Linked DNA regions of Homo sapiens: region 2 is linked to region 1. Evidence: fine-mapped expression QTL. A gene starts in region 1. The other region holds a variant in brackets. All regions are shown on one strand. Distances are from middle to middle.

Region 1 (2,922 bases):
GTCAAGTTCTTAGTTTTCGCTGCCCTTAAATAAAATTTGTTTGAGCTTTAGGCACAATTTATCATAATTAAATCCATCTCTTTGGTTGGTTGTTTTTTGTTTTGTTAGGGTTTTTTGTTTTGTTTTCTTGAGACAGGGTCTCCCTCTGTCGCCCAGGCTGAAGCGCACTGGCACAATCATGGCTCACTGAGATCCTGCTTCCTAGCCTCAAGCGATTCTCCCGCCTCAGCATCCCGAGTAGCTGGGACTACAGTTGCGTGTCCCCAGCTGTTTTTCTTTTTTTGTAGACGGAGTGTCATCATTTTTGCCCGGGCTAGTCTCAAACTCCTGGGCTCAAGCGATCAGCCCGCCTCGGCCCCCCAAGTGCTGGAACTACAGGTGCACGCCACCACGCCGGCTTCTCTGTGTTTAATGAATGTTTCTTTTCTCTCTGTTACAACATTCCGGCAGTGACTACTTATAAATAATTTTTGAAAACCGGTCTCTTCAGAAAGAAAATGCTATTGTCGGTACAGTTGCTGTCTACGTTGTGAATATTACAAACCTGAGACTAAAACAAGGAAGGGACTCAGAGAATTGAGGACTTTGACATCTCTTGCGCGGTTACCCTTGCAGTGAAAACCTGAGCTTTGAGCTGGAAACGCCCACTTTCTGTAAGTTAGAGAAAAACTGAGTCTAGTTCGCAGGCAAGAATTACACTGTTTTTCTCCCTAATTTTTTATTTTTGAAGGGAGAGCAAATCAACAAATGAAATCCCCAAGTACTTGTCAACGAGAACTATTCAATACCATGCATTCTTCTCTTTGCCTACTTTTCTGCCCCTTCCCCCCAAAAGAGATGAAATAGTCCTGGAGCCAAAACCACAAGAGTGGAGACTTGCTCTGAATGTTTCTCAAGTAAGTTGAAAAACACCGCGTTCCGAGGAAGGAGTATTTTCTAGGCAGCACACTGGTGAGGGAAAGAGGCGGGTAAAAATACAGGAGCCCCAAAAGCCACTTCCAAGCCAACTCACACCCTCAGCGCCCGGCAGTTAGGCTGAGCCCAGACTCTGACCCACCGTGAGGGCACAGCGGGGCGGGGACGGCAGGATCCAAAGGAAGCACCACCTCCATTCCCGAGCTTCCCCGGCACCCTGCGCTGCCCTCTGCCTCCACGGCTTCAAACCCATTCCTGGAGGCCGCCATCTTCCCGCCGCCGTCCCGAAAGCCTCAGTACGAAACAAGAATGCTGAGAAAGAGCGCCCCCGCGACCCAAAGCGACCCACAGCGCCCCCAGGCGCTTAGGAGGAGCTTGGGCGGGGGCTGCCGCGGCGGAGGCCACGCCCCGAAACGCAGTCCCCGCCCACCTGGGGGCTGCACCTAAGCGGCCCCTAGCGGTGGGGCTCGCAGGTCACTTGCGGGACCTGTGCCATGAGCTCAGCGCATGAAGCACCCTCCTTTCTTAAGAATATAGCCAGGAAGTGAGATGATTCGAACAAAGACTTGGTTGTATTGTAGGTCCAAAAGGCAGCATTACCACCTCTGCCAAATAGCTGAAATGGCTGCAGCAGCTGTGATTTAAGGATCATTCTTTGTTTTTCAAAGTCACAGTCACTGCATCATCCTCTGTAACTTTTGGACAATGCTGAAAGTTGCACATCATAGTTGCATACTCATTGACATTTATACATAAGAAAGAAAGAAAACCGTCCTGATTTGCAGATGACATGATTGTCCACATTTTAAAAATCCGAAAGAATCTATCAGGAAAACACCTCCGGTTTAAACTGAGTTCAGCAAGGTTGCAGGATATGAGATAAACACACAAACATCAACTGGATTTCTAAATACTAGCAATGATCACAAGAACACTAAAAAATAGAATACCACTTACAATCACTCAAATAAATGAAATAGGTGTAAATCTAACGAAATATGTACAGAGCTTTATGTATGCTAAAAACTCCAAAATGCTTGATTAAAAAAAATCAAGGCTGAGTGCAGTGGCTCACACCTGTAATCCCAGCACTTTGGGGGGCCAAGGAGGGAGGATTGCTTGAATCCAGGAGTTCGAAACCAGCCCGGGCAACAAAGCGAGACGACATCTCTAAAATAAATAAGCAATTTTTAAAGTTTTTTAAAAATCAAAGAATAGCCGGGCACGGTGGCTCACGCCTATAATCCCAGAATTTTGGGAGGCCAAGGCAGGTGGATCACAAGGTCAGGAGATCGAGACCATCCTGGCTAACACCGTGAAACCCCGTCTCTACTAAAAATACTAAAAATACAAAAACAAAAAAATTAGCCAGGCGTGGTGGCGGGCACCTGTAGTCCCAGCTACTCGGGAGGCTGAGGCAGGAGAATGGCGTGAACCCGGAAGGCGGAGCTTGCAGTGAGCCGAGATTGTGCCACTGCACTCCAGCCTGGGTGACAGAGTGAGACTCCGTCTTAAAAAAAAAAAAAAAAAATCAAAGAATAAACAAATGCAGAAACATACTGCATTCATAAATCAGAAGACTCAACATAGTAAAGATATCAGTTCTCCCCAGGTTTAATGCTTATACAGGTGTAGCACAATTGCTATGAAAATCCCAGCCAGATTCTTTTTGTACATTTAGACAATATTCTGAAATTTATATGGAAAGGCAAGGGAACTAAAATAGCTAAAACAATTTTGGAAAAAGAATAATGAAGTGGGAGGAATCAGCCTACTCAATTTCAAGTCTTATAGTGCAGTAATCAAGACGCAGCCACATGTCTATGGTTGTAGACGAAATAGTCTCTTATGTTATTTAAAGAACCATTGGGGCATGTGCCTAGTTAACTTCACACATTGAGTGCTATGGTTTATTACTGTAAAAACATGGCTGTTTTTCTTTCACATTTCATGTAATGGTTTTACTCAAATTCTCCATCTGCACCAGTAGCATCTGTATCTTTGATG
Region 2 (2,922 bases), 37 kb before region 1:
AAATCTCATACAAAAACAGAAAATATTTACCAGAGTGCCATTTCAAACCTGTCTATTCCCAAAGGTCAGTGGACATATTCCTTTATATCGAAATATAGCTACTAAGAGTATGTAAAAGTAACCCTTATATGTATATTACTATTGTCTAGGTAAGGCAAAGATGTTACCTAAAAAGTTGAAAATAGAAAAGGAGTGCCACTTTTGAGGCACAAAGGTAGTCATGATGCAGTGAAAGGACCTCTGGACTAGAAGGCAGTAGGTCTTCGGTGTGAATCCCAGCTCTGCCACAACTCATTATCTTAGTTTTCAGGGATGAATCAACCTTGTCTGCATCATGGAAGATTCTTCAAAACAGTTTTACCAAAATTAGTGTTTGTGAGAGACAGGGAACACAGCTATTACTTACAAAGCACCTAGTATAGGCTAGTATTCATTATAGCACTATTACAGCTAAAATTCCAATAGGCTGAAAAGCCTTAATCAGAGGCAAGCCTAATCATAGTGCTTACACTAAGCTATAATAAGTACATTCTATGTACTGTCTCCTTACAATAATCCCTAGAATTAGATGTTATCCCATTTTACAGATAGGGAAACTGAAGCCATAAGCTATCAAGTCCAATGCAGCTAATAAGTGGCAGAACAGGAATTCAAGCCCACAAAGCTCTTTATTGCTTCCCCAATGACATTGACTTTATCCACTCTAATTAGTGGACTTAAAAACAGCAAATAAGTGAAATACTTAACAATATGAGTCACGTTTTATATTTCATTTGCATTGTCCCTCAAAGCACTATTAGTGGAGAAGCATGATCACAAAATTCCTGACACTCTTAACAAATTTATCAACTTGCGAGCTAGAAAATGTTTCTAAAAAATGAATGTACCAACTAATTAGATAATTATATAAAATACTTTGAAGTCCTAAGTCACGCCTGTAATCCAGCACTTTGAGAGGCTGAGGCAGGCAGATCACTTGAGGCCATGAGTTCAAGACCAGCCTGGCCAACATGGCAAAACCCTGTCTCTACTAAAAATACAGGGGAAAAAAAATTAGGTGGGCATGGTGGCACATGTTTGTAGTCCCAGCTACTCAGGAGGCTAAGGCAGAAGAATCGCTTGAACCTGGGAAGCAGAGGTTGCAGTGAGCCGAGATTGTACCACTGCACTCCAGACTGGGTGACAGAGTGAGACTCTGTCTCAAAAAAAAAAAAAAAAAAAAAAAA[G/AG]AAGCAGTACCTGCCTGAAGACCGTACACGGCTAAGTCACTTAAACTGAATAATAACCCCCAGCCACTAGCCTACCTATAGGGCTGGGAATCTGTGTCACTGATAACCACAATCAGCCTATGGGATGTCTAACCTCCAAACTCATATCCTGGCAAAGCGTAGAGCCCTGGACCTCAGGTTGAGTGCCCTCTTAGTGTTCTGGGCCAGGCTTTAGGAACAGGGAATGTATGATCCACAGGGCAGAGGTATGTGTCGGCTTTGTTCAAAAATCTATTCCTAGTACCTAAACAGTGCCTGGCACACAGTGGCCACTCGGTAAATATTTACTGAATAGAATGACAGCAGTTCACTGCTGTTCTGCATAATGTCCCATTATCCCCATCAAAAACATAGTATTTTACCTATAAGCCATTAAAAAAATCCACATGATTAGAATAATACAAAGTATATCATGATAATGAAGTTTGCTGCAACATCAAATAAGCCTGTTTTTAAAAAGAGAACTCAAGACATGTATATTCTATCACTGCTCTGATTCACTGAGCTCAGCTAATATTTGACAGGAAGTAGATATATAGATATGTATTTATTTTGCAGTAATAAATTATACACCTTGGCTTTGACCTTCTTTCCACATAGCAATTAACTTCTTGAATGTAATAGCCAGAGGTTCAACCAAGCCACCAAACGGAGGATCCGTCACCATAATGATTCCTTCGCCTTTATCTTCCTGTAAAAATGCTCTGCATACTTCAAGGGCAGTCTGGAACAAATAAAAATTCATTTCTAAATTAGGACTAGAGAGAGGCACTTCATCCTATTTGGAGGAGAATGCATTAGACTCAGTCTCTCTCTTAATACTGGAAACTTTACCAAGTCATCTTGCCACCGCAGCATTCCTCAGTGACATTCTGAAGCCTCTCTTTGCTCCTATGAGATTTTATCTTTGGGTTCTTTGATAAGCAGGTTTTTAAAATTGCAAATTCAAACACCATCACTATCAGAAGACTACACATTTCAAATGGTTAAATTAAAAGGCTAAATTTAATGTCCTAAAAGAAACTCATTACCCATGAAAACTATCTAAAATGTTAAATTCAATTTAACAAACAGAAGCCAGGATGGTGCTAAGCACTGGGCACACAAAGACGAAGAAAACATTGTTTTCCTATCTGGTTTGTCCAATGCCATGAGTTCAGTTTAATAACAGCTACAAATTAGCAGTTAAACATGCATATGTTTTTGAGTATCAGGCAGACATATTTGAACATGCACTGTAAGTAAATAAAAAATGAAAGTTCACAAACGACAAAGCGCATCTGGTCCATGAAACCATGCTATTAACACATTTTCCCAAAGGTTAATTTAAGCTTTTTTAGTAATTGCAAAGTAAACATTAACAGGGACATTTAATGGTTTTTGCTATAAGTGAAGTTATTAAGAGATACCATATAACAGTATCTCCACTCAACTGACTTGCAAGTAGCTTTCAAGTACAGTCCCCTCAGTATCCCTGAGGGATTGGTTCCAGGACCCCTGCATATACCAAAATCTGCAGGTGCTAGAGTCCCTGATATAAAATGTTGTAGTATTGCACATAACCTATGCACATCCTCCTATATAGTTTAAATAATCTCTAGGTTACTTATAATACCTAATACAACGTAAATGATACATAAATAGTTCTTAGACTCTA

Which allele goes with the higher level. Alleles are on the strand shown, and positions count from the first base shown. SD is a standard deviation of normalised expression in the study named.
For the expression in prefrontal cortex of the gene that starts at base 1,220 in region 1, allele G in region 2 goes with a higher level than allele AG (small effect, 0.35 SD a copy in BrainSeq).

Evidence for each region. PIP is the estimated chance that this variant, and not a neighbour inherited with it, causes the effect. A credible set is the group of variants that fine-mapping cannot tell apart.
Region 2: its variant is the best candidate, but not a certain one, in a credible set for the expression of ZCCHC4 in prefrontal cortex (BrainSeq, PIP 0.85).

Annotation. Positions count from the first base shown.
Region 1 is chr4:25,311,072-25,313,993 of GRCh38, reverse strand. ZCCHC4 (zinc finger CCHC-type containing 4) reads right to left here and starts at 1,220. Exons shown (of 13, transcript NM_024936.3): 1 at 1,058-1,220. The coding sequence starts at 1,184. RefSeq lists enhancers at 1,102-1,161, 690-1,566 and silencers at 1,160-1,364, 1,372-1,441.
Region 2 is chr4:25,348,559-25,351,480 of GRCh38, reverse strand. It overlaps ZCCHC4 (zinc finger CCHC-type containing 4), which reads right to left. Exons shown (of 13, transcript NM_024936.3): 7 at 1,839-1,989. Among named protein-coding and RNA genes, the nearest start is that of ANAPC4, 27 kb to the left of the region's middle. The variant G/AG (reference allele first, on the strand shown) is at 1,227.